Linked DNA regions of Homo sapiens: region 1 is linked to region 2. The links come from fine-mapping of genetic effects on gene expression. A gene starts in region 2. The other region holds a variant in brackets. All regions are shown on one strand. Distances are between the middles of the regions. Region 1 has its middle 32 kb from the start of TYRO3. Region 2 holds the start of RTF1 (RTF1 homolog, Paf1/RNA polymerase II complex component).

Region 1 (8,334 bases), 170 kb after region 2:
TGCAACCTCTGCTTCCTGGGTTCAAGAGATTCTCCCGCCTCAGCTTCCCGAGTAGCTGGGATTACAGGCATCCACCATCAGGCCCGGCTAATTTTTGTATTTTTGTAGAGGCAGGGTTTTACCATGTTGGCCAGGCTGGTCTTGAACCCCTGACGTCAGGTGATCCTCCGGCCTCAGCCTCCCAAAGTGCTGGGATTATAGGCATGAGCCACTGCGCCGGCCAGACCTTGTTGATAAAACAAGTTGCAGTAAAAAAACCGGCTAAAACCCACCAAAACCAAGATGGCGATGAGAGTGACCTCTGGTCGTCCTCACTGCTACACTCCCACCAGCACCATGACAGCTTACAAATGCTATGGCAACATCAGAAGTTACCCTATATGGTCTAAAAAGGAGAGGCATGAATAATCCACCCCGTGTTTAGCATATCATCAAGAACTAACCATAAAAATGGGCAACCAGAAGCCCTTGGGGCTGTTTTGTCTATGGAGTAGCCATTCTTTTATTCCTTTACTTTCCTTATAAACTTGTTTTCACTTTATGATCTCGCTCTGAATTCTCTTTTGCAAGATCCAGGAACCCTCTCTTGGGATCTGGACTGGGACTCCTTTCCAGTAATGTAACCGCCCAAGGTGTTCACCTTGCCTCCTGCCTAGACAGAACCAACTTATCACAACCTTTTTGATAAATTGATAAATTTTGATCGCTCAGCTTATATTCAGTTCTTGTTAATCCCCTAAGCAGGAACTAATTTACTGGGGAGGGATTTAATGTTAAAGTTGGGCATAGGTCTACAAGTCAGCCCAAGAGGATTCCTCACCTCATTAAATCTACTCACCACTGCCGATGAAAAATATATTAATCCTAATGTCTGGTCCAAAAAAGGAAACCGAGGGAAATTCCAAGTCCCTCCGATCCACATCAAGCTAAAAACCCCAGGAGAAGTAGTAAGAAGGAAGCAATCCCTATTCCCCTAGAAGGTAGGATAGGGTTGAAACCTATAATCAAAGACCTTATTAAGGATGGGCTTCTCGAGCCCTGTATGTCCCCTTATAACACCCCAATACTGCCAGTCAAGAAATCAGATGGGTCATACCAGCTACTACAGGACCTTAGAGCTATCAACCAAATAGTCCAGACTACCAACCCCATTGTCCCCAATGCTTACACGGTTCTTAGCAAAATTCCATGTAATCATCAATGGTTTACCATAATAGATTTGAAGGATGCTTTTTGGGCATGTCCCCTGGCTGAAGATAGCCGAAATATATTTGCTTTTGAATGGGAGGATCGCCACTCAGGGCGGAAACAGCAATATCGAGATGGACGGTCTTGCTCCGACGGTTCATAGACTCTCCTAATCTTTTTGGCCAAATTTTAGAACAGGTACTAGAAAAAGTTGTCATACTAGAACAAATATGCCTTCTTCAGTACGTAGACGACATTCTTATATCTGGTGAAGATATAGAGAAGGTAACTGACTTCTCTACACATATTCTTAGCTATCTGCAGTTTGAGGGGCTATGAGTCTCAAAAAGAAAGCTTCAGTATGTAGAGCCCGAAGTTAAATATTTAGGCCACTTAATAAGTGCAGACAAGCGAAGAATAGGGCCTGAATGAATCGAGGGAATGGTGTCCCTACCCTTGCCTCAAACTAAATAAGAACTCAGGAAATTTTTAGGGTTAGTCAGATACTGCCGCTTATGGATTGACTCATGCACTGCACAGTAAACTGTTATATTAAAAACTTGCCCAGGAGAAGCCGAACCATCTCCTGTGGACTTCTGAGGAAGCTGATCAAGTCTAGAAGCTGAAGGAAAGGCTCATAACTGCCTTACCCTCCCTAGAAAAGCCATTCCACCTTTTTGTTAATGTGGACAGTGCGGTAGTTTTAGGAGTGCTGACTCAAGAACACAGAGGCCGCCGGCAGCCCGTAGCCTTCCTATCAAAGGTGTTGGACCCAGTCACTTGTGGATGGCCTCAATGCATCCAGTCCATCGGGGCTGCGGCAATACTGGTCGAGGAAAGCAGGAAGTTAACCTTTGGAGGAAAATTGACGGTAAGCACGCCTCACCAAGTTAGAACTATCTTAAACCAGAGAGCAGGGAGATGGCTTACCGACTCGAGAATCTTGAAGTATGAGGCCGTTCTGTTAGAAAAGGATGATTTAACATTGACCTCTGATAATTCACTCAACCCAGCAGGTTTCCTAACAGGGAATCCAAATCTATGGAGGGAACACACATGTTTAGATTTAATTGATTACCATACAAAGGTTCGACCAGACCTAGGAGAAACCCCCTTCCGGACTGGACGGCACTTATTCATAGACAGTTCCTCCGGGGTGATTGAGGGAAAAAGACACAATGGGTATTCAGTGATTGATGGAGAAATTCTCATAGAAATAGAATCTGGAAAATTGCCAACAATTGGTCTGCTCAAACATGTGAGCTATTTGCACTCAGCCAAGCCTTAAAGTACTTACAGAACCAGGAAGGAACCATCTATACAGATTCCAAGTATGCCTGTGTAGTGGCCCATATGTTTGGGAAAATTTGGACTGAAAGAGGTCTCATTAGTAGTAAAGGTCAAGACCTTGTTCACAAGGAGCTGATCACCCAAGTATTGAATAATCTTCAGTTGCCAGAAGAAATAGCTATTGTCCGTGTTCCCGGACACCAGAAAAACCTTTCTTTTGAAAGTTGAGGAAATAACCTAGCAGATCAGGTAGCCAAGCAGGCTGCTGTGTCTTCTGAAATGCATATTTTTCACTTAACTCCCTACCTGCCTCCTCCTACTGTAATCCCCATTTTTTCTTCCACTGAAAGAGAGAAACTAATAAAAATAGGTGCTAAAGAGAATTCAGAAGGAAAGTGGATACTGCCAGACCAGAGAGAAATGTTGTCTAAACCCCTTATAAGGGAAGTCTTATCCCAACTACATCAAGGGACCCATTGGGGGCCTCAGGCCATGTGTGATGCAGTTCTCAGGGTTTATGGTTGTATAGGAATTTATACCCTGGCCAAACAGGTTACAGATAGTTGCTTAGTATGTAAGAAAACTAATAGACATACTATAAAAAGATTACCTCTCAAGAGAAGGAATCCGGGCTTAAGGCCATTCCAAAGTATCCAAGTTGATTACACAGAAATGCCTCCAATAGGTCGTCTGAAATATTTACTAGTAGTAGTAGACCACCTCACTCACTGGGTTGAAGCTATCCCTTTTCAAATGCGACAGCCAATAATGTAGTTAAGGCCCTAATTGAAAATATAGTACCTAGGTTTGGACTAATAGAAAATATTGACTCAGACAATGGAACTCATTTCACCGCACACATTATTAAAAAGCTATCCCAAACATTAGACATTAGATGGGAACACAATATTCCCTGGCACCCACCCTCATCAGGGAGAGTAGAAAGAATGAATCAGATGCAAAAGAACCACCTAACCAAATCAGTCTTAGAGACTTGGTTGCCGTGGACCAAGTGTCTTCCTATACCCTGCTGAGAATTCGAACTGCACCACGGAAAGACATTGGTCTTTCTCCTTATGAGATGCTCTATGGATTACCTTATTTGCACTCCACTACTGATATTCCTACCTTTGAAACAAAAGACCCAATCAATTCCTTACAAATTATATACTTGATGTATCTTCTACTTTCTCTTCTCTTAAAACTAAAGGTTTTTTAGCACAGGCGCCACCCTTGGAGTTCCCGGTGCATCAACATCAGCCTGGGGATCATGTCCTCATTAAGAGCTGGAAAGAGGAAAAACTTGAGCCAGCCTGGGAAGGTCCTTACTTAGTGCTCCTCGCGACTGAAACCGCAGTCCACACCGCAGAGAGAGGATGGACTCCAGAGTCATGGGCCATAGTCCTAGGGGAAAACCCTACCAAACTAAAGCTAAGAAGAATTTAACTCTCTTTCATCTATTCTATTACTTTTTCTTCTTTCCTCGCTCTATTGCTGACCATCTAGTTATTAACGTAACCAAGTCAAGTTCACCTCAAACTATTGCATTTGATGCTTGCCGTGTTATACTCTGTAGGGATTTGCTAAGTCAAAGACAGCTCTCTACTTCAGAAAAGTACCTCTGTCCCTCCTGGCTCTCCTCAGACTGGGCATTAGTGAATTGGGACCATTTAATCCGGGGAGATTTCAATAAAGACCCCAGTGGCAACCAGGAGTCTTGCCCCACTGATGTAGAGCTTTTATGCCGTAGTTGGTCCGATGTTCTGTGAACCACCAAAGAGCAAGGATGGAGTGCCCCAACCAGTTTTTATAATTTCCTAAAACCATACATTCATTTTACTAAAGGGACAGCCCCCCCTAACTGTCAGCTAAACCAGTGCAACCCTATACAGGTTATTATTTTGAGCCCCCAAAGTTCTCCCCTTTTTCTAAGCCAGTTCCCTTCTTTCAGCCGGTTTTATGGTATGGGAGCTGAGGTTTCAGGGACAGACCTATTGGATTCTTTGAAATGTGTTTCTTTGATCCCCCACCACCTGAACCTGCTTCTAAAGCTTTTTCTAAAACCTCTTACAATGGAACCATTGTTCCTCCTCCATCTAA[C/T]GACAAGGCCAAGATAGCGATGGTAGAAGTTAAAGACTTAAAACAAACTTTAGCAATCGAGACAGGATACCAAGATGTAAATGCCTGGTTGGAATGGATCAAATATTCCATCTGCACGTTAAACAAAAGCAATTGTTATGCTTGTGCGTGTGGCAGGCCAGAGGTGCAGATTGTCCCCTTTCCACTAGGGTGGTACTCCAGCAGACTGGGCATGGGCTGCATGGTAGCTCTTTTCCAGGATTTTACAGCCTGGGGTAACAAGTCATGCCAAGCTCTCTCTCTGCTGTATCCTGAAGTTCCACACCCTGTGGGTCAGCCCCTGAGGGCCATCCAGCTTCGGTCTCCCAACACTAAGTTCACTTCGTGTCTCTCACGACAGGGAGGAAACTTAGCGTTCCTTGGAGACCTGAAGGGATGCAGTGAGCTTAAGAACTTTCAAGAGCTTACCAATCAGTCAGCCCTTGTTCATCCCCGAGTGGATGTGTGGTGGTATTGTGGTGGACCTTTACTGGACACTCTACTGAATAACTAGAGTGGCACTTGTGCTTTAGTCCAATTGGCTATCCCTTTTACCCTGGCATTTCATCAATAAGAGGAAGAAAAAATAAGACATTGTAAAGTGAGAGAAGCCCCTTATGCTTTCGACTCTCACATCTATTTAGACACAGTTGGAGTCCCATGGGGAATACCAGATCAATTTAAGGCCCAAAATCAAATAGCTGCAGGATTTGAGTCAATATTTTGGTGAGTGACAGTTAACAAAAATGTAGATTGGATAAACTACGTCTATTACAACCAACAGGGATTTATTAACTACACTAGAGATGCTGTTAAAGGAATAGCTGAGCAATTAGGGGCTACTAGCCAGATGGCTTAGGAAAATAGGATAGCCTTAGACATGATATTAGCAAAAAGAGGAGGAGTTTGCGTCATGATTAAAACTCGATGTTGCACCTTCATCCCAAACAACACCGCCCCTGATGGAAGTATAACAAAGGCATTGCAAGGTCTGACTGCTCTATCCAATGAGTTAGCCAGCAACTCAGGGGCAAATGACCCCTTTACGGGATGGCTAGAGAAGTGGTTTGGTAAATGGAAAGGAATAATAGCCTCAATTCTTTCCTCCCTCGTAGCTGTAATAGGTGTACTTATTCTTGTCGGGTGCTGTGTTATACCATGCATCCTGGGTTGGTGCAGGGGCTCATAGAAATGGCACTTACTAAAACCTCCCTTAACTATCCTCCACCTTATCCAGAGAAGCTGCTTCTTTTGGAAAATCAAGCAGAACAACTAAGTCAAGACATGTTAAATAAGTTTGAAGAGAAAGCCATAAAAAATTGCAAGAGGAGGAAGTTGTTGAATATGAATTCTAAATTTCTCTTCAAAGAATTAATATGTCAGTATGTTCAATTCTTTGCCTTCTACTTTTAAACTTAACTTCCTCGTAAAGCAACCTTTTGTGATTACCTACTCTACCCTGACTCATCCCGATTACCTACTCCACCCTGACTCATTCTGATCACCTACTCCACTCTAACTCATTCTGATCACCTCCACCCTGAATCATTCTGATCACCTGCTCCACCCTAACTCATTCCGGTTACCTGCTACAAAGCGCTCACCCCATCATTCTCTTTAAATTAGCCAATCGGAATTAGTTTAGCCTGTGCGGTCTAACACTAGCCAATAGGGGAATGACCCAGCAGCAGGGGCCATGTGCGTGTAATCCCAGCGCTTTGGGAGGCAGAGGCAGGCGGATCAGGAGGTCAGGAGATTGAGACTATTCTGGCTAACATGGTGAAACCCTGTCTCTATTAAAAATACAAAAAATTAGCCGGGCATGGTGGTGGGCGCCTGTAGTCCCAGCTACTCGGGAGGCTGAGGCAGGAGAATGGCGTGAACCCGGGAGGCGGAGCTTGCAGCAGTGAGCCCAGATTGGCCATTGCACTCCAGCAGCCTGGGCGACAGACAGAAACTCTGTCTCAAAAAAAAAAAAAAAAAAAAAAAAAAAAGAACCCCTTCTTCTCCCTTGTCCAAATGTGCGCCCACCATTGCTCCATCGGTGAGAGCGCACCCTTCTATAGAAGTACCTTGCCTTGCTGAGAATTAAAAAACAGAAAATTTTATATTCGAGTGCTACAACACAGAGGAATTGCAATGGATAAGGAGTAATTCACGCAGAGCTGGCTGTGAGGGAGACCGGAGTTTTATTATTACTCAAATCAGTCTCCCCAGCATTGGGGGAGCAGAGTTTTTAAGGATAACTTGGTCGGTGGGGGGAAGCCAGTGATCCAGGAGTGCTGATTGGTCAGAGGTGAAATGATATGGAATTGGATCTGTCTTCTTGAGCTCAGTCAGTTCCTGGGTGGGGGCCACAAGATCAGATGAGCCAGTTTTTGATCTGAGTGGGACCAGCTGATCCATGAAGTGCAGGGTCTGCAAAATATCTCAAGCAGTGACCTTAGGAGCAGTTTAGGGAGGGTCAGAATCCTGTAGCCTCCAGCTGCATGACTCCTAAACCATAATTTCTAATCTTGTGACTAATGTTAGTCCTACAAAGGCAGTCTAGTCCCCAGGCAAGAAGGAGGTCTGCTTTGGGAAAGGGCTGTTACCGTCTTTGTTTAAACCATAAACTACAAACTAAACTTCTCCCAAAGTTAGTTCAGCCTATGCCCAGGAATGGACAAGGACAGCTTGGAGGTTAAAAGCAAAATGAAGTCAGTTAAGTTAGATCTCTTTCACTGTCTCAGTCATAATTTTGCAAAGGTGGTTTCAGTAACATAATTGTTCCTAAGACTCTGTTCAAGCATATACAACATACCAGATGCTTTCCTTATACCTTTGAACATTTTATTATTATTATTATTGAGATGGAGTCTAGCTCTGTTGCCAGGCTGGAGTGCAGTGGCGCGATCTTGGCTCACTGAAACCTCCGCCTACCGGGTTCAAGCGATCCTCCTGCCTCAGCCTCCTGAGTAGTTGGGACTATAGGCACGCGCCACCACGCCCAGCTAATTTTTTGTATTTTTAATAGAGACGGGGTTTCTCCATGTTGGCCAGGATGGTCTTGATCACTTGACCTTGTGATCTGCCCACCTCAGTCTCCCAAAGAGCTGGGATTACAGGTGTAAGCCACCGTGCCCAGCCCATTTTATTATTTTTAATCCCGAAGCTATATGTTTTGTTTAACTTATTTAATAAACATACTCATCTTTTTTTGTTTGTTTGTTTGAGATGGGGTCTCATTCTGTCACCCAGGTTGGAGTGTAGTGGGATGATCACATCTCACTGCAACCTCTGCCTCCGGGCTCAAGCGATCCTCCCACCTCAGCTTCCCAAGTAGCTGGGACCACAGGCATGTGCCACCATGTCCAGCTAAGTTTTTGTATTTTTTGTAGAGGCAGGGTTTTGCCACGTTGCCCAGGCTGGTCTTGAACTCCTGGTCTCAGGCCATCCACCAGCCCCGGCCTCCCAAAGTGCTGGGATTACAGGTGTGATCCTCCATGCCCAGCCTATTTTGTTTTTCTGATTGCTTTCTAAATATTAACGTATGTAATCCTCATAACAATGGCTTTGTTACCAGAAAGGAGTCCAAATCTAGACCCCAAGAGAGGGTTCTTGGAGCTTGCCCAGGAAAGAATTCAGGGTGAGTCCTTAGTAAAGTGAAAGCAAGTTTATTAAGAAAGTAAAGGAATAGGCCTGGTGAGGTGGCTCATGCCTGTAATCCCAGAACTTTAGGAGGCCGAGGTGAGCGTA
Region 2 (8,334 bases):
CTGGGTTCAAGTGATTCTCCTGCCTCAGCCTCCCAGGTAGCTGGGATTACATGCGCCTGCCACAATGCACAGCTAATTTTTTTTTTTTTGTATTTTTAGTAGAGATGGGATTTCACCATGTCGGCCAGGCTGGTCTTGAACTCCTGACCTCAGGTAATCCGCCTGCCTCGGCCTCCCAAAGTGCTGGGATTACAGGCGTGAGCCACCACACTCGGCTTGGCCTAACTTACTATTTTTTTTGAGACGTGGTTTCTCTAAGTTGCCAAGGATGGATTCCACCTCCTGGGCTCAACCGATCCTCCTACCTTAGCCTCCCAAGTAACTGGGACCATAGACCTGTGCCTCCATGCCTGCTTTGTAAACTTAAACCTTATAAGAACCCAAAGAGACAGACACTATCATTATCCTCATTTTACTAATTGGAAACTTTGACTGGTTGGGTTCTCTGGGAAGCTGACTCAAGAGGGAGTTTAAAGCAACGTTTATTCACTAAATTTAGACATTGATTAGACTCAATACGGACTAACTTCAGTACGTGAATCATTAGAAGACCCCTTGCAGAAAGATCAAAATCTACAGATTTCACTCAAAGAACATACTTTTATTAATTCCAGTCAAGGGCCACTGACCATGTCATGGCTTCCTTTTTAGCAGTACTGTGTATTAACACATTTAAAGAGGGTCCTCCAGAAGGGCACCACAGGCTTCAGGGTGGCTAGACATACGGAAGCTGGGCTGGTGATTCGGGGTCACCTTGGCCATGGTTCCAAGGATATGTCGGGGGAGAAAAGTCTATGAGCTGTATCTTAGGAAAACTCTTCTAGGGTAAAGAGGTAGTTGGACTTTATTTAGGTTGTTTTATTTATTTATTTTTTTGAGACAGGGTCTCACTTTGTCACCCAGGCTGAAGTGCAGTGGTGCGATTATTTTCTTTTTTCCTTTTTTTTTTTTTGAGAACAGGCTCGCTATTGTTGCCCAGGCTGGAGTGCAGTGGCGCGATCTCAGCTCACTGCAACCTCCACCTCCCAGGTTCAAGCAATTCTCTGCCTCAGCCTCCCAAGTAGCTGGGAATACATGCGCCCACCACCACGTCTGACTAATTTTTGTATTTTTAGTAGAAACGGGGTTTCACTGTCTTGGCCAAGTTGGTCTTGAGCTCCTGACCTCGTGATCCACCTGCCTCAGCCTCCCAAAGTGCTGGGGTTACAGGAAAGAGCCACTGCACCCGGTCCAGATTATTATTATTATTATTATTATTATTTTTGAGAAAGAGTCACGTCTGTTGCCAGGCTGGAGTGCAGTGGTACGATTTCGTCTCACTGCAGCCTCCGCCTTCAGGTTCAAGTGATTCTCCTGCCTCAGCCTCCCAAGTAGCTGGGATTACAGGAACACGCCACTATGCCCGGCTAATTTTTGTATTTTTAGTAGAGACAGGGTTTTACCATGTTGGTCAGGCTGGTCTCGATTTCCTGACCTTGTGATCCCCCTGCCTCAGCCTCCCAAAGTTGGGATTACAGGCGTGAGCCACTGTGCCCGGCCTAATTTTTGTATTTTTAGTAGAGATGGGGTTTTGCCATGTTGGCCAGGCAGGTCTTGAACTCCTGCCCTCAGGTGATCGGCCCTCTTCAGCTTCCCAAAGTGCTGGGATTACATGTGTGAGCCACCACGCCCGGCCCCTACTTTATATTCCTAATCACTAAAGGAAATAACTTCTGGAGCTGACCTTTTTATCAGCTGACCTCAAACTTAAGTATAAAAACTTATTTCCTATACACACCAGTTCCCAAAACCTTCTTCTCTCCTCTTGTATTTCATTTTTTTGATGAAGGGCTCACCTGCCACTAGCTTCCTAAGCTAGAATCTGAACATCAATAGGTATCTGGGAGCACTCCTTCCCTTACCCCTATCCCAAATCCTGGGGATTCTACGTTCCAAATTATCCAGAGTCCATCCACTTCTTTCCATTCCCACAGCTTCGTCCTTAGGTCAGGACACCATCATCTCTTGCCAAGAAGACAACAACAATCCAAGCGATCTCCCTGCCCTTAGTCCATTCGCCATACTGCGGTCAGAGTAATCTTTGAAAAACACAAATCAGGCCTGGGTGCAGTGGCTCATGCCTATAATCCCAGCACTTTGGGAGGCTGAGGCGGGCGGATCACCGGAGGCCAGGAGTTTGAGACCAGCCTGGCCAACATGCTGAAACCCCATCTCTACTGAAAATACAAAAATTAGCAGGGCGTGGTGAAGGGCGTCTGTAATGCCATCTATTCCGGAGGTTGAGGCTGGAGAATCGCTTGAACCCAGGCGGCAGAAGTTGCAGTGAGCCAAGATCGCGCCATTGCACTCCAGCCTGGGCGACAAGAACGAAACTCCGTCTCAAAAAAAAAAAAAAAAAAAAAATTAGCCGGGCGTGGTGGCAGGAGCCTGTAATCCCAGCTACTCAGGAGGCTGAGGCAGGAGAATCGCTTGAACCTGGGAAGCGGAGTTGCAGTGAGCTGCCACTGCACTCCAGGCCGGGCAACAAGAGCGACTCCGTCTCCAAAACAAACGAACAAACAAACAAACAAACAAAAAAACACCACCACAAATCAGGCTGGGCACGGTAGCTCACGCCTGTAATCCCAGCACTTTGGGAGGCCAAGGCAGGAGGATCCCTTGGGCCCAGGGGTTCGAGACCAGCCTGGGCAATATAGGGAGGCCCCGTCTCTACTAAAACACAAAACCACACACAAATCAAATCATGTGGTTCTTCAGTTTAAAATCTTTCAATACTCAAGTTCAAACTCCCTAATTCAGCTTACTTATTAGGATCTGAGTGAGGCAGTCGCCGTGTCCTTCTCCAGCCTGGTCTGTCGCCTATCCCCACCCACAATCTCTGCTCTGGCCATAACTAACTTCAGTTCTCCGAACCTAACTTTATTATCGCCGGGCCATTTTGCCTACGCTGTTCTCTGCATGCAACACTCTACTCTCCTTTTGGGTAATTCAGATGCATTCTCCAGGTCCCAGCTCAGCTGTCATTCGCACAGCCCGGGTCGGCAGTCTCCAGCCCCCAACCGGTGTCCACCGCGTGGTCCAGGCGACTTATGTCTTCCAGGCCGTCGGCCCCTTAAGTACACGCCATCAGTGTTGGACAGCTTGAAAGTAGGTAGACACGTGAGCCCCCTCAGAGAGAACCTGGATCCTTGCGGCTCCAGCCCCCGATAGGAAGAGAGCCCACCAAACTTCGGCTCCGCAGCAGAGATACAGCCAAGGACTCCAGGGCAGTCGCGGGTAAAGCCACCACCACTCTCTGCCGGGAACCAGCGACGGGGGAAGGCCCCGCCTCTCACGCTGCGTCGGGGGCGGGGCAGGGCGGGGCACCCGGCGACCTGCGAACGGCGTGCGGCGAGCAGGGGGCGGGGCCAGGGGGGCGGAGCGGAGCGCGCATGCGCGGTCGCCTTTGTGTGGGTCGAGCAGCGGCGGCGGCGGCGGCAGTGGCGGTCCCACTGGCAGGCGGGCAAGAGGGGAGTCCGGGCGGCGGCCGGCGTGGGAGCCGGGGGACCACCATGGTAAAGAAGCGGAAAGGCCGCGTCGTGATCGACTCGGACACAGAGGACAGCGGCAGCGACGAGAACCTGGATCAGGTGAGGGCAGGCCGCGGAGGCGCGGGCCGGCGGAGCCAGAGGGCTGTCGGGGCCGCGGGAGCCGGAGACGGCCGGGCCTGGAGCCTTCCTACCAGAGCGCCCAGCTCGCCCCGTGCCCTGGGCACCACTACAGCCCCTTTCCCGTCTTCCTGGAGTGTGCGGGGCCTTGGAGACCGGCCCGGGCCTGGAGACGGAGCCCCGAGGACTTGGCGCCTTGGGCGGGGAGGCGGGGCAGGGACCGGGCCGTTGGGCCTCGGGCTCGGGGGTAGCGAAAGGGGCCGCGATCTTCCGGGGCCAGATCGGGGCGGCGGGCTGTAGTCCAGGAGATCCGGGCTGGGAGAGATAGGAAGTATCGCCCGCCAACCTGGGAGGCTGGGAGGTTTTGGAGGAGGTGCAAGGGTGCGCGTCGAGCAGTTGGGGGCGAGGGCCAAGAAGATCCGGACTCTGGAAGATGGAAGTTTTTCGGACAAGGGATGTGGACAGAGGAAGGACACTCGTAAATGTTCCTAGGAGCCTCTGCCATGCTTGCCAAGGATGACTTAGCTGTGGGCACGAGTTTATTTGGCGACTAGGGTCGTTTGTGTTTGAGAAGGGCCCTTGTTGAGGTGTCAGACCCAAAAAAACACTCTTGGGTGGAGGAAAGAGGGCAGATACTGGAAGAAATAGAGAACTATGTAGGGCGACATGGAGGGACTGTGCATAGCCCAGGCCTCCTCTTGGCCCTTTCACGCAGCATCCCAGAATTCTTTCTTACTTGAAGACTGCAGGAAGCACTGAAAGTAACTTTTGGCCTCAGTGTCTTGGGGTTGAACTGTTTATATACTCTAGAAAACATTGTAGGGAGGAATCTGCTCTTTGTAGCAGTGCTCTAGTGATACCAGGCGATACAAAGATGGTCTCCTTTCTGTTTAATGAGCAAATGATGTAAAGAAAGAATATGCAAGAGATAGTAGCTTTTGAGTAGAAAGAGTATTGAACTTGGAGTCTGAAAATTTGAATTCTAGGCTGGGCTTATGCTATTTTCTAGCTATATATCTTTGGTCTTAAATGTAAAATGAAAATGTAACATCAGCCTTGTGTATCTAATTGGTTTATTGTAAAGATCAAGTGTTTGTAAAAATTGATGGCAGTGCAAGCATTTGCTAATTGTAAAGTTTTTCTATGAATGGCTTCTTGGGGGTCTTTTATATGAAGCCAGAGGTCTCAGTTTGAAAGTATTAGGGGCTGGGCGCGGTGGCTCACGCCTGTAGTCCCAGCACTTTGGGAGGCCAAGGCTCATCTGAGGTCGGGAGTTCGAGACCAGCCTGACCAACATGGAGAAACCCCATCTCTACTAAAAATACAAAATTAGCGGGGCGTGGTGGCACATGCCTGTAATCCCAGCTACTCGGGAGGCTGAGGCAGGAGAATTCTTGAACCCGGGAGGCGGAGGTTGCAGTGAGCCTGGGCAACAAGAGCGAAACTCCATCACAAAAAAAAAAAAAAAAAGAAAAGAAAGAAAAAGAAAGTATTAAGGCATAAAAGGGGAGGACTTTTTATTTATTTATTTATTTTTTTTTGAGACGGAGTCTCGCACTGTCGCCCAGGCTGGAGTGCAGTGGTGCGATCTTGGCTTCACTGCAAGCTCCGCCAAGGGGAGGACTTTTAAGAAGAAAAGGATTGAGGAGGTGCTGTAGAAAGAAGACTGCTTTGAAAATGGTGGTAGGGAGATGGAGAAGTAATGGGGCCTGTGTAAGACTATCTAAGGAATAGAAACTTTGTTTTGGGGTAGGAATTGAAAATGTTCTCATTGAAAGGCTCCTGAAGTTTACAAAAATATCAAAAGTATAATTTCGACTGTAAAAGTTTGATTGGTAGATAATTTTAGACTGGCAATTAGAAGGAGTAGAATCTATTTTTTTCTGTCTTTTCATCTACAAATGTGAATGTTTCAGACAATAACAACATTGGCTACCATTTATATAGTGCCTAGAGTAGGCACTTTAATTGTTTTGTTTAGATTTTCAAGTTTTCACATTATGGTAAATTTGGAATTATTTCCTCTACTTTACATAAAGAAAATGGAGGTTGAAAAAGTTAAATAACTCACAACTAGTAAGTGGTAGCATTGGGATTTGAACCCAGATCTGCATGAGTACAAAGCCTATACTGTTTCCACTATACCAACTCAATCTGTTAGTTTTAAATTTTTTTCATACTGCAAAATGATAATGTTTCACAGTCATTTTTCATGGTGCTAGAGTTCGTGTTTATAAAGTACACTGGATAGTTTAGAGGAAATTGGTACATACATTAAAAGGATTATTTGGGGGGATTTCTTGGTAAAGCACTCTCAAGACATCTGTTCAAGTGATGAATGAACTGAACTGCAAATTATTGTCCTTAGTAGTTTCCCACAGAATTCTGATGAATAAAATAAGTTGAGTGCTTCTTTTCGTGGTAGAGATATTTCACCTGATCCACAAAAAGCTTTTTCAAAGTGGGAACTGCAGAGAATTGCCACTTTATTTATTTATTTATTTTTGAGACGGAGTCTTGTTCTGTTGCCTGGGCTGGAGTTCAGTGGCACAATCTCAACTCACTGCAACCTCCGCCCACTGGGTTCAAGCGATTCTCCTGCTTCAGCCTCCCGTGTAGCTGGGACTACAGGTGCCTGTCACCACACCTGGCTAATTTTTTGTATTTTTAGTGGAGACAGGGTTTCTCCATGTTGGCCAGGCTGGTTTCGAACTCCTGACCTCAAGTGATATGCCCACCTCGGCCTCCCAAAGTGCTGGGATTACAGGCATGAGCCACCGTGCTTGGCCGGAATTGCAATTTTAAATCCAATTCTAAATATCTATTTGTAAAAGGAAATTAACATAAAATGTGTAATACCTAATACATTTTAACAACAAATTTAACTTCCTCCCCTTCAGCTTCTTATTTGCATTCTTGTTATCAGATGGGAACTAGATCAAAATTCCCTTTCCCTGCACATCCTAACAGGGGTATTGATGCCTTCAGTTTGTCTGTTCAGCACTATGCCAGACTCTCAGAATAATCAAAGAGGAAGATCTCTGCCCTCTAGACATTTTCACGAAAGACCTTTAGCACAAGTTCACTGTCAGTGCTGCTTGGGGGTCTTTAGGAATCCTAATGCATTCTGGATCTTTCCTGCCCCAAATACCTTGTGCTGCTCCATCTGGTTCTGAGTCTTCACTGGGGGTATAACATTAGACTTGCTGTCTAGCGTATGGTACTTGTGGAAGGAACAAACCATGACAGATCACTGAGTATCTAGTGTGGATTGGAATGCAGTTCGTAAGGAGGCCTTTTGTCCCTGGGTTTTTCAGATGGGAATCTGAGCCATTATGTCAAAAATTTTACCTCCAATTTATTCCTTACTGAAGGTGAGATATATGGGCCTTCTAGGCTGGTTTTTCCTGGTGGTAGGGGCAGACCTCTGTGTCAGAAGCCACCTGGGTTGCTTATTTAAAATGTAGGTTGGGACTTAGAGGGTGCAGCAGTTCCCATCCTAGACCTACTGAATCAGACTCTCAGGGGATAGAGGTCTGGACTCTGCATTTGTAACAGGTATAGCTCAAGTAATTATGATTTATGTTAGTGATTAAGATCACTGCCTATATGCAGGTTAATCTTTTTAGTAACACACTATAAGTATTTAGAAGAGAAATAGCTTCCTGTGTCTGCCATAGTACTTCCAAATTAAGCGTACATGTATAGGCTGGGCATGGTGGCTCATGCCCTGTAATCTCAGCACTTTGGGAGGCCAAAGTGGGAGGAACACTTGAGCCCAGGTGTTTGAGATCAGCGTAGGCAACAAAGTGAGACCTCATCTGTACAAAGACTTTAAAAATTGGCCAGGTGCAGTGGCTCATACCTGTAATCCCAGCACTTTGGGAGGCCGAGGTGGGCGGATCACCTGAGGTTGGGAGTTTGAGACCAGCCTGACCAACATGGAGAAACCTCGTCTCTACTAAAAATACAAAATTAGCCAGGCATGGTGGTGCTTGCCTGTAATCCCAGTTACTCAGAAGGCTGAGGCAGGAGAATCACTTGAACCCAGGAGGTGGAGGCTGTGGTGAGCCGAGATCGTGCCATTGCACTCCAGCCTGGGAAACAAGAGTGAAACTCTGTATTAAAAAAAAAAAAAAAAGAATTTAAAAATTAGCTGGGCATGGTGGCGTGCCTCTAGTCTCAGCTACTTGGGAGTCTGGGGTGGGAGGATTGCTTGAGCCTGGGAGGTTGAAGTTGCAGTTACTTGTGGTCCCACCGTTTCTCTTCAGCCCAGGTAACAGAGTGAGACCCTGTCCCAAAGAAAAAAAAAAAAAAGGCACTTGTATAACTAAAAGAACTTGACAGGGAGGTTTTAAGATGGCAAAACTACTGGTTCTTTTTTTTTTTTTTTTTAGGCAGGGTTTCACTCCTGTCACCCAGGCTGGAGTGCAGTGGCACAATTACAGCTCACGGCTGTAGCGTTGACCTCCCTAGCTCAGTGATCCTTCCCCCTCAGCCTCTCAAGTAGCTGGGACTACAGGTGTGCACCACCACACCCAGCTAATTTTTAAAATCATTTGTAGAGATGGGGGTCCCACTACATTGCCTAGGCTAGTCTGAAACTCCTGGGCTTGGGTGATTCTCAGGCTTTGGCCTCCCAAAGTGCTGGAATTACAGGTGTGAGCTGCCACACCAGGCCTTATTT

The links. PIP is the estimated chance that this variant, and not a neighbour inherited with it, causes the effect.
Region 1: its variant is the best candidate, but not a certain one, in a credible set for the expression of RTF1 in whole blood (TOPMed, PIP 0.78).

The regions. Positions count from the first base shown.
Region 1 is chr15:41,586,802-41,595,135 of GRCh38, forward strand. No RefSeq gene overlaps it. Among named protein-coding and RNA genes, the nearest start is that of TYRO3, 32 kb to the left of the region's middle. The variant C/T (reference allele first, on the strand shown) is at 4,579.
Region 2 is chr15:41,413,685-41,422,018 of GRCh38, forward strand. It overlaps RTF1 (RTF1 homolog, Paf1/RNA polymerase II complex component), which reads left to right and starts at 3,411. Exons shown (of 18, transcript NM_015138.5): 1 at 3,411-3,629. The coding sequence starts at 3,432. RefSeq lists an enhancer at 3,141-3,240 and a silencer at 3,301-3,890.